2 separate regions of the Homo sapiens genome follow, and region 2 is linked to region 1. The links come from fine-mapping of genetic effects on gene expression. Tissue or cell type: subcutaneous fat. Region 1 holds a variant in brackets; the other region holds the start of a gene. All regions are shown on one strand. Distances are between the middles of the regions.

Region 1 (9,334 bases):
TGTATCAGATTTTGAGGCAAAGAAGTCATCATAAATTATAAAAGACTTCAGTTTTATGTTTAAAAATGATATATCCACAATGAAGATATTAGAATCATAAACCTTTATATGAAAAATAACATAGCTACAAAATACTTAAAGTAAAAGCTGTGCTATACAATTTTACAAAATGAAGTTAGAAAAGAAAAAAATTTAGCTTTGAAGAAACATCTCCCAGGTTTTGAATACTCATGTAAGAAAAAAGTAAAAAAGTAAAGGCTATATACTATTCTAATTTATAGATTTTTAAAATAAAGAGATCAAGTATATTCCAAATAAACAGAATATACACTTTATTTTAAAAGCCAATGGATCTTTTGTAAAAACTGGTCATCTAATAGGCCAGAAAAATGTTAAATCAGTTACAAAAAGAAAAGCTGAAGTTGTACACGCCATGTTATTAGATCACAATACAAAATAGCCATTAATAGCTAAAGTTAAAAAGTAATTATTTGGAAATAAACAATGCATGACTCATTAACACAGATCAAAGGGGATTACAGATTCTTTACAAAGCAATACAAATGACAATACTTCATTAAATATTTGGTAGAAGCTTTATGCGCATAAACTATCTGACTCAAAATCAGAGAGGTGGAATGTATTAGCAATAGGTAGATAGTGAATAAGACAATGACAGTGCATCTATAATGTTTATAACAAATACCATGTGTGGATATACTTTTTATCATGGAGATTAAACAGATTTTTAAAAAATGAAAATTTGCATTAATATAGTAAATATAGCACCCACTCGACCACCAAATCTCGTGCAGAGAGTTTTTAAATGCTTTCAATACAAAAAGAAGAAATAAAAGACATACGTACAAATAAAACCCCAACAGAAATAAATTAATCATTCAAACAACCTAGTCAGTTTAAAATGTAGGTTTCATTATTATTCAGGTATTGTGACGCCAAAAATCAGGAGACACTGGCCATTGTATAGACAGTTTGTTCCCAAGAGGAAGGGGTATGCCATGCCACACAAGGCCATGCTGGGAAGCACCAGATTCAGTCAGGAGGCAGAAGGATTTGAGGGGTGATGGAGAGCGTGAGCAAGAGCCTTTATTTTGGTTTCTGCAGCAAGGTAAACAGGTTTAGAATTGGCTTGTTTAAATAATCCCAGCAGACTCTGGGGTATAGGAACTGTCCCTAGTTGTCTAGTATTTGACTCTGGAGTGATTAGGGCAGCGCATAGTGGCCCTGAGTGTGACAGCCTCCTAGAGGAGGTTGTGGGGTGTGAAAGCTCTGCATTGTTGGTTTGCATATGAATCTCACAGTCCTGGGCCAGTCATTTACTATGTAGGATATGGCTACATAGGAGCCAGGAGATGGCTAGTCCTGGAAGGGGTAGGCTTTCCAGGATCAGCAAAACCCTGAGATGTCAAAGCATCAGAATTGCAGGAAATGGAAAGGCATGACTTCATACACTGTTGAACCCAGCAGGTGGTTGAAAGCAGGGTTCCCCCTGCGTCAGGGACCCATCTGGCTGTGTTTCTTTATCTCCCTTCCATAATCATGACAGATGCTGTGACACACTGATACATTCCTAGTTAGGAATAAAGAACTTATTACCAGAGCTGCTGTAAGTGCTGTCAGTAGACAAGTCTCAGCTGAAGAGTTTCCTAGTCCGCATCACTCTTCCTTCCTAGGTGGGCCTCCATCCAATGATTAATCTGTGTAGGACAGGGTTTCTCAATTTAACATTTTGAACAGGATAATTTCTTGTGGTGAGGGCCAATCATGTGCATTGTAGGATGTTTAGCAAATTCCCTGCCCCACCCCCCAGACTAGATACTATTAGCACCCACCCCAGTTATGACAAACAAAATGTCTTCAAACACTGCCAAATGTCTCCTAGGGGGCAAAATCACCTATGGCTCATAATTAATGATGTAATTGATTACATATATTACATTAATAATTACATATATTCAATGACATGTAAATACTTTCAGATTTATATTCCAGCCCAGATCTCTTACCTAAGCTTCAGCCTCTGTATAGCTCACTCCCTATTGCCCATGACATTTTATCAAAAGACTTTACATATTTTATGCTTAAGAATATGAATTTTAGAAGTGGCTGCTTAAGTAAACATCTCATTTACTAGCTTTGTAACATTGAGGTTCTACTAAGCTTTTGTTTCCCTCAGTTTTCTTTCCTCATCTATAAAATGGACACAATAATAGGATCTGCCTCATAGGTTTGTTGTGAGAATCAAATTAATGCATGTAAATACTTCAGAACAATTCCTGGCATATTGCTAGTTTTCAATAATGCTAGCTATTACTATTAGTCAAGTGGTGTCTTGCAGGTACGAAATGCAGTGTGTTCAAGTCCATCTAAATTCCTGATCTGCCAACCCTGGTCATTTTTCTGTATTTAGTATTTCACTAAATGACACCACCAATCACTTACTCAAGCCAGGTGCTTAATCAATGTTACTATTGATTTTTCCATCTCCTTCAGCAACTGCCTCAATCACAAAATCATATTGAATCTGTATTCTTAGAACTGGTTGAATTTGTCAATTGTCTTCATCTCAATTGTCACTATTTTCATTAAAACGTGCTTCTTATTACAAGAACTATTGAAGAAATTGAGAACATGGACTCTGGAGTCACAGAGACTTCAGAATTAGGTTTAAAGTCCAATTCTACCAGCATCATGATATTAAGTAAATGACATTTTCTCTCTTTATCCATTACTCTATTTGTTTAAAACAAACAAACAAAAACAAAACAAAACAAAAGTGATAATGCTTGCATTAAAGAAATGCAAAGAATATTATAAGGAGCACTCTTTGTGTTACCCTAACTTGAAATAAAACAAATAACCATTAATAAGAGACTGAATTAAATAAATTGTGACATTTTTATATAATAGAATACTGCATAGTAATGAAAAGCAAATGGCCACTGCACAATCTTAGAGAATGTTGAGCAAAAAAAAAAATCAAAAACACACAAATCAGTAGGTAGTATTTATAAAAAATTTGAAATAGGAAAGACCCAACTGTATTGTTTAGCAATGTGTACTTAGTGATAAAACTGAAACAATATGTAGTTGTGATTATTATAAAAGTTAAAGACAGGCACAAGACTAAGGAATATTGAGGAGTCTTAGTTTGGGAAGTAACAGCCTGGAGGCTTTGGAGGTGATGACAGTGTTCAGTTTCTCAATCTGGGGGATGGATGCATGATGATTTATATATACATACTATATTTTACTGTATTTAATATTTTGTGCACCTTTCTGTTTGTGTTGTGTTTCATAAATTAGAAATGGTTAGACAAAAGGATAGTGGTAAATGAAAACAATATATAAATACAGATATTTTAAAAAGGTGATTAACACATCACCTTTAACCACATATATAGATACATACATACATACATATGTATGTATAAAGCTTTTGTGAATGAAGAGTTACTATTAAGCCTGCATATCAAGACTGCTTCAGAAAGATCTTAGATTCTCATAGGACTGTTTCCATGGAAACAGTAGTTTTAAGACAAATGAGGAATGTTTTGACTGGCTCATTTGTTTTGCGGAACACAACATCTGCCTCAGGTTAGAGGGGCTGTGAGTTTTCATGCACATGGGCTTTGAGCCTGTGGGATAACTATGGTATAAAAAGTTGGTGGGAAATAGAGGCTGTAGCTTCCATGTTTCAAGGTTGCACACACATCTTGGCAATCATTTGTGGCAGCCATGCATACATATGTGTGTGAGGATGTAAAGGAAATCTTTTTTTTTTTTTTTACTACTTTTTTGTACTTGGGTAGCTGCTGAGATGAGGTGATGATGAGATGAAGATGGTACACCTGTTTCATGTATTGCCTATTTCCTTCTATAATGCTAAGTAAACAGTATTATATTAAAGCTTGCCTGTGTCTCCTGACTCAGCTTGCTAGCCGAAGACAAATGCTGTGCTAGACAATGGTGTCAGAAGTAGCCTTGGCTTTCAGGCCCTTGAGTCAAATCATTGTGATGCAGGAAATAGGACAGGATAGGGTTGGGGAGCAGATTTTGATGAACATTTCATGCCTGGATGGCTGAGTTACCTAGATTTATCTCCTAGGAAACCGTTAAAATGGATAGTCAAAGAAAGGCAAGGGGAGGGGGCAGTTAAAGATATAAGAAAAGGGTGAATCAGATACAGCTGTCATTAGGTGGCTGTTAAGACACAGGATGAAAAGATAAGAAATTTATTGTTAAGACACAAGATGAAAAGATAAGAAATTTATTGAATTATCTGAAAAGATTTACTGGCTCATTATCACCAGTTGGGAAAAGGAACATTTGCTCCGTATCTGCCAGCTGCCTTCCTTAATGAATCCCATGAGATATGATCCCTTTAAGCCAATCTGTGTGAGTTTAACCCAGATTAGTCAGTCCTTTCTCTGGGAATAATCTGGCCTAGGGCCACTAGAAGCATTTCACAAACAGTAAAGAACAAATT[G/A]TCCTGACTCGTTTTTACTAGTAAAAGAGGCACAAAGGCTCAAAGGGCTGTTTGGATTCTGGAGGACACATACGTTGGCCCCAGTATACAAAGAGACTAGAAAAAGAAATGGATTTGAATGAGATCCAGAGAAGAAGGCAAGTCAAGCTGTCCCTTTGGTATTATGTTTTATAAACCTGACATTACCAGTAGTTTTAGAGAAGTCCACTACTAAAAAATCCAATGATGCTGTAAGAACAAAAGTTGTGAATAAACTTTGTGCTAAGAAAAGTGCTGAATAAAAAGTGTGCTAAATAAACACCATTGGTAGAAACAGTAGAAACCAATAAAGATTAACTTGAAGGCTAGGATATTTTGTCCTATCCCACAGATCAGTTCAAAGACCATGTGCTTTGGTTAAAGTCGAATATCCTAGGGTTGGTGAACAAAACATTTTGAGACAATTGAATATCGGTACATAAAGTACTATAATACATGTAGGGAGCAAAAACACAATGTTAAGAAGCCAAAGAGGAAGCTAAGGGCTGGGGTGGGAAGGAGATACTGTGAGGGAAGACTCCAAGGCCCTAGTAGAGCACCAGAGAGGAACATGATAAGGAAATAGTGGAAATAGATAAGAATAGTGCTGCTATTCTCTGCTTGAATGAATAACTGGAAAGGTTATGAAGCAAAAGCAGAAGGTCTTGCCCTTCTTAGTGGTCTATAGCTGAATGCTAGGGATTTGCCCTTTGCCAGGTTTTTATCAGATCTGTTAAGTGGGAGGCTTTACAATTGCCCTTTTCTGTAGTAAATACTAAACTGCATCATTTTCCAGGAAAGTAGCAGGAAATCTCAGTCATGATTAAAGAGGTCGTGGAAACAGTTGTGCTCATCCCCATCAATTCTCTTCACGTTAGTCCTGTCTGTCCTGTGAGAAAATGCAGAATTAAGTGAAACAATTTTCCCCAAAGTCTCTGTTATGCCAGACATGATTAAAAACTACCAGGAGGTTCGGCAGGGAATGTGCTTTGATAATAGAATCTGGAAAAAATGCCAAGCATCATTTTTATCTGCATGAGAGATATTTCATTACATATACTTTACTATCTTCCTCTAAGGTTATGCACATTCTCCAGGATTTAGCTACTGCCCTATAAGACAAGATTTGAGTCTCTTCATTTCTGAAAGCCCATTGATTCATGAAGCTGATGATACGATGATACCTCCCCTCTCAGAAAGTAAGCTGAGAATGGAGGCAAGGAGGATTTACAAACAATAGCTGCAATAGGACTAGATAAGGATGTCTAAAAAATCTGATTAAGATTCAGGACCCAGATTGGTCAGTCTTTTCTCTAGGAATACTCTGGCCACTAGAGGCACTTCACACACAGTAAAGAACAAATTGTCCTGACCCATTTTTACTAGCAAGAGAGGCACAAACTCTCAAAGAGTTGTTTGGATTCTAGGACACATATGCCATATTTGGAAATCCTGTTGGCCCCGATATACAAAGTGACTAGAAAAAGCAATGGATTTGAATGATATCCAGAGCAGAGGGTAGGCCAAGCTGTCTTTTTGGGATTTTATAATCCTGATACAACCAGCAGTTTTAGAGAAGTCCACTACTAAAATACACATAGACTGGAGTCCCTAGCCAAAGCCTTAGAATGCTACTTATAGGTGGTTGCAGGAGTTCTGGACTAAAAAAAATTCATGATATTGTGTCTGAGAACAGCCTATTTGAGATACAGGCATTAGCATGCTTTTTGGCTCTAGTAAGAAACAGCCCTCATACCCAAAGAGCATCAGATTACATTGCATTACCTATGGTGACTTGAGGCTTGAGTTATCTACAGTCTCATGGGTGATATAAAAAGAGATTCCAATAGAAAGGGAGTTGTACAACAAGTTCCCTGGTAAAATATGAATGATATATGATACAGTTTGGCTGTATCCCCACACAAATCCCATCTTGAATTGTGGCTCCCATAACTTCCACATACTTTCTCATAATTTCTACATGTCGTGGGAGGGACCCAGTGGGAGATAACTGAATCATGATAGCAGTTTCCCTATGCTATTCTCATGATAGTAAGTTCTTATAGATCTGGTGGTTTTATAAGGGACTTCCCTCTTCACTTGGCTCTCATTCTTCTCCTTCCTGCCACCATGATTTTAAGTTTCCTGATGCCTTGTCAGCCATGCTGAAAAATTAAACCTCTTTTCTTTATAAATTATCCAGTCTTGGGTGTGTCTTTATTAGCAGTGTGAGAACGGACTGATAAAATATATTTGGGAACATGCTAAAAAAGATAGACTCTGAGGAAATGCACTCTATCCATGAGCAGGTAACATCTCTGCCTCTACAGTGGCACTCTGGAGGAGCTACCCACTCTTATTGCCAAAGGTTCTGAACCCTGCTGAGACAAAATATCTGACTTATTTGCTAATGAGAGTCCTTGCACTGAATGATGGGACTCTATATGGAAGGCTACAGCTAACCTCCAATGTACTGTAAAAATCTGAGCTGAAGACACAATGATAAGCATACACAGTGGCCTGAATAGAGGTCAGTATATGTTATATGTTAATGGTTCAGGAAGAACTTGGTTCTTGGCCTCAGGCTTGTGTCTAAATATTAAAGCCTCCTGGGCTTTCCCTAGGACTGTGTTGCAGTGTCAGACAGGCAAATGCTTCCTTGATACATAGATACACAAGATTATCTTCATGTGAAGAGATGCAATTGTGGAAGTCTTTATGGAAACTCCTGGGGAGAAGCACATTTCTAGATGCCTACAAAGAACAGCCAGTAGTGTCTCAGAGGAGCGCTAGAAAGCCAAAGTAGATGCCCTGGTCTCCCAAAGGAGAAAATCAGTTGAGTGTATGAGATGAGCTGTCACAGTGGTGCTCAAGCCATGCCACGACAATTGGAAGCAATGGCATAGACCAGTGCTACCCAGAAAAGCCATTACTATTGTGACAGGCTGTCCTGAATGCGATCAAGAAGAAAAAAAAGTCCAAAAATGGCACTGGAGAGAATTCCCTGAGGTCAATGGCAAGCACATCACTGGCAGATGGATTATACTGAACCCAGTTCATTACTCCTGGAGTATTCCAATGAGTCTTTCTGGGGATAGATGAGTGTTTTGAGTCCCCCCACTATATTTCATAGGGAATGAATTTCACCATGGCCAAGTTTCCAAAATGAGACAAAAAGAACCATATGTAATGGACATATACTCCTACCAGCCACATAGGAGTGGCTTAATTAAAAATTGGAATAGTCAACTAAAACATTCATTTTGAAAGACAGAGGATGCTAAGGAAGTGAAGGATAAGAAGGGCTGGCTGGGAAGCTTATAAGGGGGTATGTGCTTCACCTAAACATGGGAGACATTGAGGGCGGAACAGCCTTAAGAAAGCTTTTTGTGTACCAGGAATAAAGGGTTGGGAAATGATACTGTGACATAAATCTTCGTCTTTCATACCTTACAAACCTTTCCTTTTCTGTTATCAGATCAAGTGCATTAGACAAACATTGCATTTGCCCTTCTTCCAACGAAAGGGAGCATACTACTTAAGATACTTTATTCCTTTGCACTTGGGTATATGTTTTCCTAAGGACATGTAGACAGTTATTTTGCCCAGTGTGACCAAGGTAGGACTGACCCTAAGTGCTGCTTTATTGCCTAGTGGTAGAGGAGGACCTGTTATCTTTTACCTTTGCAAACCTATCATCTATTTATAAGAGTGGGAAAAGGATTTGGTGAGGCTTTATTTTTATCTGGAGGGAAGAAAAGTCATTTGGGACATTATCCTGTACAAAACCTATGGGAGAGGGCCTGTATGCTCATCCAGGAAGTGCTCTCTGCTACACTTTATTTCTATTGTGTTTAAAGGAAAATGCCTGAGTGCTTTAGAAGTCCAAGCCGGACAGATGCAATATTAAAATGGTAAGGACCACCTGAACTATAGCAGGATGTCACTGGAACAAGTGATCCTGTTATCGTTCCCTTACAATATATACACCATGAATTTAAAAAGAGCCAGCATTTCCTGTGATGCAGTTAGTGGCCATCAAAAGACCAACACTGTGTCCTCTCTATAGGGTGAATTGGTTGTGCTCTACTTTTATATGTGGGAACCAGTGTCAATAAAATCCTGCTTCTTCATAGCAGAGGTATGATTAGGCCCCCAGGACAGAAAGAATTCTGGATTTACTGAATATTCTAGTGACTATTCCTGTCATTGAAAATGTATGGCATATGGGCAAGAGATAGTTCTGTTGGGAAGGATGAGGAAATTATACTGTAATAAAAATAAGTGTTTGGTGTGCTATGTATTACTTTAATATCTGCTGCTATCTGCTGTAATGTTAACAAGTAGTTTGTGTGCTAAGCATTACTTTAATCTCTCATCTACTGCTATTTGGTATAATAAAGTATTTTATGGCCTCATATATGGAAATTAAAGGAAATAAAATGTATAATGATCATGACCCCTCAGGATCAAAAGATATTTTGAGAAACTGATTTGAGATCCCCACTTGATGATAACCCCATAGAAACTAATTGTCCTTAGAGAAACTAAACACACGTCTAAGTGTCCCTAAAAACTTTTAAAAGATATATGTGATATTGAGTGAGAGGGAGACTGTAATTCACTAATAAGGCATCAAAAGACTTGTCTAGTATGTCGGTTAAGATGAACATGTTTTGGGAAGAAGATAACTATACTAACAGTACAAACTTGGTGGTCACAAGTGTAGTAGTTTGTTTTTTCCTGTGTACAAAATATTAGAGATGTGCCTATCAGAAAAAATACCAAGGAACATTTAAGGAGTAT
Region 2 (9,334 bases), 31 kb before region 1:
TGAAATTAGTTAATATTGTAAAACTCTCAAAATCATGTGGCTTAGTATAAGACTAAATAAATGAGCAATTGTTTATGATGATGATTAAAGATGGGTGTCCGACAAGCAATTAAAATATAACACATTTTATTCTAAATGCCTATTCTCTATATGACCAACTATTGAAATACCAGTCACCTTCAAGTCAAAGTTGAAATGCTGCCTCTTCTTGATACCTCTCCTAATTCCACAGTGAAAAGTACTTATTCCTCATATATTTTATTGTTAACAGTATTTACTTTTTAAATTGTCATTTCTTTTTTTTTTTTTTTTTTGAGACGGCGTCTCACTCTGTTGCCCAGGCTGGAGTGCAGTGGCACTATCTCCGCTCACTGCAAGCTCCGCCTCCAGGGTTCATGCCATTCTCCTGCTTCAGCCTCCCGAGTAGCTGGGACTACAGGTGCCTGCCACCACGCCTGGCTAATTTTTTGTATTTTTAGTAGAGATGGGGTTTCACCGTGTTAGCCAGGATGGTCTCGATCTCCTGACCTCGTGATCCACCCGCCTCTGCCTCCCAAAGTGCTGGGATTACAGGTGTGAGCCACCGTGCCCGGCCAAATTGTCATTCCTTATGTATTATATCATGCTGTGCATTTATCTTTATATCACCTACTAGATTGCTCCTTAAGTTTCAGAAATGGAGTCTTTATCTTCACATTCTAGTAGAGCATAACATATCTTTCACATAGTGTTCATTAAGTGTTCAGCTTTAAAAAAGTTAATTTCTGGCTCTTTGCTGTTTCATTGGTATTCAGGCAGTGTGTGTGTATATATATATATGTATATCTGTGTGTGTGTGTATATATAGACTACTGACCGTATACACACTTGATAAGTTTACGGTGTATACTGAACATATTATAAAGAATCGTAAAGATCCAATAATTTTAAAAATCCAATTTAATAAAAAAAATCATCTTCAACGCTGTAAAACCACAATGACCCTTGAGATGCCTAAAATGTCTGATCTTGCAGGAAAGGGGTGGAGGAACTAATTTAGCTTCAATAAAAGAAAAGTATTATAAGTCACCATAGAGAAAATATTACAAGTTTATTGCAGATATATCTTTCCAAGGCAGGGACCTACTCAAAGTATTGGCTACTGAAAATCTGTTTTCTCCTCAAAAGACTGTTTACATTACTCATACACAATAGGTTCTTTTGAACCTGTAGCTTCTATTTTTTGAGTTTTGTGCTTTTAATCCTTTGAAATGCTGACTTGAAGCTTAGTGATGTCTAATAAAAAATTATTGGACATATCCAGCTAGCTAAGAGACCCCAAGAGATTCAGAAGCAGGGTGGTATGAATTAGTACTTCAAAAATTATTTGCTTTTATCATGTAACTCACAAAAGCCAAAAAGACTTCCCTTTCAATTAACTAAATTAAATCACACAGACTTCTGGTGCTTTTTTTAAAAAATATATTGTTTTCTTCTAATTTTATTTTGTATGAAGCCACCGGAGATAAATATAACTCAATACTAGAAGACACATCTGGAACTTTCAAAATCAGTTTCAAAATCAATCCTTGCCCAGGTCAGTTTTATTGTAAACACTTGTACCCTCTGGTTAACAGAAATTCAGTGAGGTTTAGTTTCTGTTTTTTGTTTTGTTTTGTTTTGTTTTTGAGATGGAGTCTCACTCTGTTGCCATGCTGAAGTGCAGTGGCGCCATCTTGGCTCACTACAACCTCCACCTCCCGGGTTCAAGCGATTCTCCTGCCTCAGCCTCCAGAGTAGCTGGGACTACAGGCGCACGCTACGACGCCCAGCTAATTTTTGTATTTTTAGTAGAGACAGGGTTTCACCATGTTGGTTGGCCAGGATGGTCTCGATCTCTTGACCTCATGATCCACCCACTTCGGCCTCCCAAAGTGCTGGGATTACAGGCGTGAGGCACCGCGCCAGGCCGCAGAATTTTTTTTAACCTCATTTTACAAATGATGAAGCTGAGCAGTTGGTAACTTTTTCAAAAATCTCTGGGCCAGCAAATGGCCAAGAAACCAATCTAAGGTTAATCACCTAGCAAGGAGCAGATCGAGTCTGGCTCAAGAACTCAAGTTCTTGTCCATGCTATTCTGCCTTCCTTTAAGGTATTAGACAAATCAAATTTAGAGGATACACCAGTTATTTTTGTGACACAAGATGAAAGCTGCTGCTATATGGTTATGTTTTCAATTAAGGATTATGTACCTAATAAACAATGATTAACTGTTACCTACTCCATAAACTGTGCCCAAACTTCATCTAAAGACAGCTTATTCTATTTTATGATCATACATTCACTATTCGTCACACGAATAACAGCAACAGCTCTGGAAATGGTGTTTTCATTGTTGTGATTTTTTGTTTTGGGGGGTGTTTTTCTGCATTGAGCCTGAAAATCCACAAATTCACAGCACTCATGTTTTTTTCAGGTGTGATACACCTGAAATAGATGTATTGTCATGAAAGTGATTTGCAAACAACGTGATACAGTATCACCAATATCTAGGTTTTACTTTATATTTTTGTTTCAAACTACTGCCTCAATACTTTAACGTGAACAGCCTATTCCAGTCCCATTTTTCTTATTTTCAAGTTCTTAATCAACATTATCCCCCCCTTGTTGTTGTTTTATAGCACTTCCACATTTTCTCCTAACACTTATCCGTAGGGTCTTACAACAACAAAACCAAACAGTTATACCTGCCTGTACTTCAAGTTGCTTCTTTGGAAAAAGGAACAACAAAAACACTAATCCAGCACTGTTGCATCCCGACTTAGCAAAGGCTAAGAGTCTAAGATGACAGTGCCAAACACGTTAACAGGTGAACTGAAAAACCATCTCTAGCGGCCTCGCCATCGGGCGGTCTCCTCCCGATGCCCAGAGGCGACAGCTACCTTTCCGTTGCACCCAGAGCCCAGCAGGCCTCGATCCTTCTACTCTCCCGGTCGGCTCAAGGCCCAGAGGCAGTCTGGGGGCACAAGGAGAAGGTGCTGAAAAAGGCTTCCATCCGACCCGAAATTTCCACCTTGTCGGGGAGACAAGGAAAATCCGAGGCGACAGGAGGTACCGTTTCAAAGAGGAGGCGGCGACGAGGCCAGTGAGGTGGGGATAAAGCAGTGTAAAAGGCAGTAAAACTAACGCAGACTAAAACAGGCCTAAGAGTGACAGCCTAGGTTAATCGAGGGGGCTACAGGCTCGCCGCTGGGCGCCACCAGCGCCTGCCAGAGGGGCGCCGGGTCAAAGGGCGCCCGGAGGAAAGCGGCCACCAGATTGGCTGGCGGGCGAGCGCGCAGGCGCCCGCGGTGGACCTCGTGCCTGCCGCCGCTGCTGGCGCCGCCGCCTCCAAGAGGTCTGACTCCTGCAGCTACTCACCAGGGTCGGGTAATTCACTTCTTGCAAGGACTCGGCCAGAGGAGAGGTTAAGACCGCGAACATAGAGCTGACTGCCGCCGCGCCCCGAGCCCAGACAGCCCCTCCTCCCCGAAGGCGCGCGCACAGCGTTCCGGGCGCTTTCAGGGGCGGGACGGGTGGGGGCGGGGTCACGGAGCGGGCGGGGCTCGGGGTCTTCCGGAGCCTCCGGTCGCGGGTCTAAGAGGACTAGGGCGGGAGCGGCGCGGAAGAAAGAGAGGACTGCGTTTTGGGGCGTTCTGTCAGAGGGGAAGGACGTGTGGATTGGAGTCAGACTGCACTCCCGCCCTATTTCTGCAAGTAGAACTCACTGCCTTTAGAAACGGTCTTCTGAGGCTCTGTTGGGAGGCTCTAACTGTATTACAGAGGACACATTTTTGTTTGTTTTTATGTGAAACATTCAGAAGTTGCTTGCATCAAGTGCTTTACAAGTACACTGGTTTTCAAACTTTTAAAGTTGAGGAACTGTTTTGATTTTTGTAAAAATAGAACTTTACTTGGAAGCCCAAGGTAGGCAGATGGAGATGGCGTTTTTAATTTGCGAATGTATTCTATAAAATCACATCTGTACTGAAGTACTAGAAATAATTGAGGATAAGTCAGATGTGAAGAGCAAGAACTTTTGAAATAGGATTACAACTGAAGGTTTCCATCTTACATTAGCTTCAGAAAACAAGAAAATGCTATCTTTTGTTTGGTTACATAGTAACAGGAAGTCCTTATTCAAGCTAGAACTTGCTGATGTGAACAGTTTCATAAGGGCTCTCCTTAAAAAGATTTTGTACACCAATTTTAATTGGGAAATATACATATGAGTATATCTCATGTGCATATCTTAAAGAAGAATGAAAAATGCCCAGGTACCCACTACAGAGCTTAAGAAAAAAAAAATGCCAGTATTTTTGGAGTCTTCTAGAAAGAAGACTCTCTAAAAACATCTCCTTCCTTCCGTTCACCATTATGCTGAATTTTATATTACTCATTCCGTTGTATTTCTGAAAATAGTTACATATGTACGATTCCCTAAAAATACTATTTTCCTAGTTTTATATTTCATATGTGAATCATTCTTCATTTTTCCCCTTTTTTCACTAATTTAGGTTTTGAGAGGTTTTGAGATTCGTCTGTATACAAGTCCATTTCCCATAAACTAGACTGGCACATCGTTACCCTTATGCTATTGTTAGACTTTTTAAGTTTTTGCTGATAAGAGCATCTGATTGCTCTTTTAATTTGCATTTTCCCTTTTGCTAAAGCCTGTTCTTAATTTTATCTCATTTTTTATTAAATTGCTTGCTTTTGAAAATTATTTTGTAGATAATATTTATTTTTTCTAGTTTAATTCTCTCTTGTAAGTTACATGTGTTGCAAATGTCTTCTCTTAGTTTATGGACTGTCTTTCCAGTTTTTATGATGTTTCTTGATTGCCAAAAGCTTTATGCTTCAGTATACAGCTTTTTGAATTTAATAATATTTTACATTTTAATTTTGTGCTTTTTGCTTTCTTGCTTACAAGATTCTTCCCAACATAACATCAGAAACTATTCTTTCTTCTACAAGTTTAAAAGTTTAATTGTAGCAACTTTAAACACAGAAAGGACAAATAATAATATAATGAACACCCATGCACTCAACTCTATGTATTAAAACATTTTGCAAACCCCTCCTCCTAATGATTCTTGTCTAAAATTGCCTTAACTATACTTGGCTCTTTACTCTTTCATTGAAATTTTAGGATGAGCCAGCCAAGATCCATTTAAAAAATTGGATTTCAATTGGGCATTTTATTCAACTTGAGAATTGCATTTAGAGATTTAGTGAAATGTCTTCTTATCTATGAACATGGTATATTTATTTTATTCAGGTACTTTATGTGCTACTATGCTTTGTAATTTATTGAGTATCTTTCATTATATTGCCTCCTAGTTTTATTACTAAAATTAGAGATCTCTCTCTTTAAACTCTATTTTCTAATTGTTTAGTAACATTGTATTAAAAGAGCATCAATTTCAATATATTGGTACTATCTCCAGAAGCTTCGCTGAATTTTTTTGATTGCTTGCTTTATTTCCCTGTTACATCTTTGGATGACCTATATAGGTAATCATATCATTTGTAAATAAGAATAATGGTTTCCTTCTTTCTCTCTTTTCAAACCACTTATTATTCAGTTTTTTCTTTTATTTATTAACAGAGCATCCAGTGCAATGTTTAATGGAAGTAATAATGGCATTCTTGTCCCATTCCTCACTTTACTGCAATACTGCTAACATTTTATAATGATAACAATGTTTGCTGTGGGTTTTTGGTAAATACTTTATCAAGATTATTAAGTGTTCTGTTTCCAGTTCATAATGTATTGTTGTTTGCTTTTTTTTAACCATGAGTGACAGTTTAATTGATTAAATGCTTTTTCTGCACCTATTGAGATAATCATTGTTTCCTATTCTAATATATTTATGGGAATGATTAATACATTTTCTGATGTCAAATGAGAGGGAGAGGATTTTATTTTATAAATATGTTAATGCATGCTCACTTGCTTAAAAACTGGGTACTTTATGACTGCCAGTGTAAATAAATTAGGCAAGTAGATTCTCATTGCATCACACTCTATTCATTGCACAATGGTGTTTATAAACTGGATTAGAATTGCTGCTAGTGCCTCATCTTGTAACTCTGACTGCTCTACCTATCCCCTGCTATTGTCAGGGAATGTTGAGATGGCAATGATAGAAATAATGTTGTTAATATTCTTTTTTTCTTTCACATCACTTTTTTTCACAGTGTTTTTATGTAGAATTTTTTTTTTTTACTTGACATCACTGGAAAGTCAGCAATGTTTTGTTGTAATTATCACATATAGAATGTTATTACATTCTGAATCTTGATTTTGTTTTCAAATATGGGATGGCCATAATAACTGCCACATCCAATTTTTTTATCTCTCATATATACATATAGATTTAATTAGTTCAATAATTTCCTGAATGTAAACAATGTAGAATTTAGTAAATTAATAAGCACTGATGGGAAAGGTCTCCAAGATAAATGAGCAAGTGATTAGTATGTTAATACTTACAAGAGAAATTCACATTATATTAATATAAATTTTAAATATATATGTGCATGTATGATATATAAAAATATCTGAAAGGATATATGCATTGTTACCTATAGGGATGTAACAGAAGGGGAATGAAGGAGAATTTTCTTTTTTACTCTCTGTAGTGCTGTTTTCTTTTTTAATGTGAGCCCATATTTATGTATTTTTTAATTAAAAATACAGCACCAGAAGAATATGCCATTTATCTAATAGATGGTTTCTTGGAAAGAAAAAGAGCTGCATATAAATTCATTTGTGTAGTAAATAGACATTTTAAATGTGTTGCATCAGGGGTAATCAGTCACTGAGAGTCCAAAGACAAAAATGATCCAAAGAAGGAAGAATGGAGAAAAAAAAAATCCCCCATTTTTTTTTCTTTTTTGTCAAATTCTTGTATGGAAAGATTCTAACACAATAAACTAATAGTAGCCTTTGGTTTATCCTAATTAGCATTTATTAAAATCATAGTCCCCACCCCACAAGATCCTTCAGGTTAATCCTATCTTGCTACTAGAAAAGCGGCAGCCATTTATCTTATCTTTTGGCATCAGCATTGAAGAGTCTTCTTTGTATTTCCCAGACCTAAGCAGTTACACCTTCAACCATCTTTTTCTTGCCTCTATTTCAATGGGCCCTATTGTTTGTCTCCTGATTATTTCATGTCTATTTTTCCCTGTCCTAGAAGTTTCATTAGTATTTCCTAGCCATATGCCATTTATACCTTTGCTCATTACTCCTGTCACTGAAGATGAGAAATCAATTTCTGTCCATATCCTCTCCACTTACATTAATCAGAGATATATTTTGTAAGCAATAGAAATTGAATCTGGCAAACCTGAAAACAAATAGACTATGTAAAAAGTTACAGAATTTAGCATGAAGATGAAGGCTAGTACATTAGGTAATGGCAATGGATAGGAAACAAGAGGGGCTAGGAAATTGGGAACACAGCCTCATATAACAGTACAGATTAGGGCACTGCTGCTTTCAGGGCTGCACTGATCTCAAAGCTGCTGACACCACTATGAGTGACTTCTCAACTCTGTGTTGTCTACCTCGTTGCTTCAAGATTCAAATTTTGGATTGAGATCATTTGATTAGCTTACTCTAGGCTGTATGTCTTTTCCTCCTTAGCCTCCTTGAAGTAGAGCCCAGAACTTTTGGCTTTAATGGGAAATTGGGCACAAAACACAGAATACATTATTCTTCCAAAACCTGAAGGATTTTTAGATTCTAAGTAGTAACAAAATAAAATAAACTAAATCCCCAAACAATAGTCCAATTATCCATCACAGTATGCTTCACTGTCCATATAAAGTCTACTTTCTCCCTTACTATTTTATACTTACTGTTTTATTCTTTTAATCCCTATACATTTATAGGGAGTAATATGAAACAGCAATAATTTCTTAATTAACTAAATTGTTCTGTTCTTTTTATCATATCTGGTATCTGTGAAGGTGTAACTAAGGTATTCCTTGACACAGTTTGGGATGCAAAGAATGTAACTCCAATAGTGCCATGAGTAAAACACTAAAGTTTCCACCAATTTATAGCAGTAGATAATTCAGAGAGCCAAACTCATTGTTTCCCCTAATGCTCTGATCCTTTCACTGTACCTACCAGCATCCTGACAGCAAGGAATCCATTCTAACTCTATCCCACATAAATTCACGAACTATTATCAGACCAAGGAAAAAACTTGCCTTGGTAGGTCATGATTAAAATTCACTGGCCTCGTAGTGGTCACAGGTTTTAGGGTGACTTCTTGATGCATTAGATAAGGCTCTTCTAAGAATTGATGTACATAACCCAGAATTAAACTCAGTGTAGGTAACTTCTAACTAAACAGGCCAAGCCCCTTTGGTGAAAGTTTTTCTCATTCTCTGATCCAAGTACTTGCCCAGGTGATGGCCCTCCTGAGTGACAGAGATGGGAGAGCGTTCTGCCTTCCCAAATAAAGAAGGCAGAAAGTTCACCTCTGGTTGAATGGTGCTGTTAAATGCTAATGCATTGATTGACTATATATGGAACATTTCTCCTTAAGGAAACCCTATCCTGAAGGAAACCCTATTCTGCAAACAGGCATGGTGGCAGCTAAGGGAGATGCATGTCTTTAGTGGAAACCAGAGCCAGCAGGGAGATGTAGCACTTCCTGAGTTCGGAAATGACTCCACCAGTTGATATAGGGCCTCTCAGTGTGTTGAAGGAAGGAAGTCCTATGTTTTATGATTGAGCATTAGTGTCATACTACAATCAGCCACTCCCCAAATGTTGCATCACTGAAACTCCAGGTTTCACAGAGAATTTCCTAAGGTATTAGGTTTGAGTTTCTTCCTTCGTGGGATGCTATGGATTCTTTAACCAAACCAACCTAATCTTTCTCCTGCCATAGTACCACCTTCTCCTGCCATGCAAAAAGAAGCAGTTTGCAAAAGTCAGTAAAAGAAAAAAAAAATGCCTTGTTATTTCTCAAAATGATGGGCTCACTTGTCTTCTATTTATATAAGAGAGACCACAGTAATTATTCTCAACAGTATCAGCTACAAGGTGATTTTCTGTGCCTGCGTATTCTAAGAAGTAGCTGGCAATTTCTCTTGTTAAAAGAGAAAAAGAAAAAAACATGCACTTACTCGCTGATAAACATTTTTCTGTTAGAGAACCCAATTAAATAGCAGGCCTGTGTTGTGTACGTCTTTTATACACCCTGTAATGCCAGGTTCCATGAAGGCAGTTCCAGAGATAGTCTAATTCAGAGCTGGGGCTCCAACTCCCAACACATAGTAGGTGCT

The links.
Region 2: MANEA starts here. The variant in region 1 is fine-mapped to the expression of MANEA in subcutaneous fat (GTEx, PIP above 0.99). The same link has a PIP of 0.9 or more in atrial appendage, breast, liver, lung, skeletal muscle and sun-exposed skin.

The regions. Positions count from the first base shown.
Region 1 is chr6:95,540,582-95,549,915 of GRCh38, reverse strand. No RefSeq gene overlaps it. Among named protein-coding and RNA genes, the nearest start is that of MANEA-DT, 32 kb to the left of the region's middle. RefSeq lists an enhancer at 280-896 and a silencer at 5,036-5,236. The variant G/A (reference allele first, on the strand shown) is at 4,511.
Region 2 is chr6:95,571,705-95,581,038 of GRCh38, reverse strand. It overlaps MANEA (mannosidase endo-alpha), which reads right to left and starts at 3,504. Exons shown (of 5, transcript NM_024641.4): 1 at 3,401-3,504. MANEA-DT (MANEA divergent transcript) reads left to right here and starts at 3,588. Exons shown (of 3, transcript NR_104136.1): 1 at 3,588-3,946. RefSeq lists enhancers at 2,905-3,004, 2,468-3,408 and silencers at 3,205-3,264, 3,545-3,634, 3,685-3,764.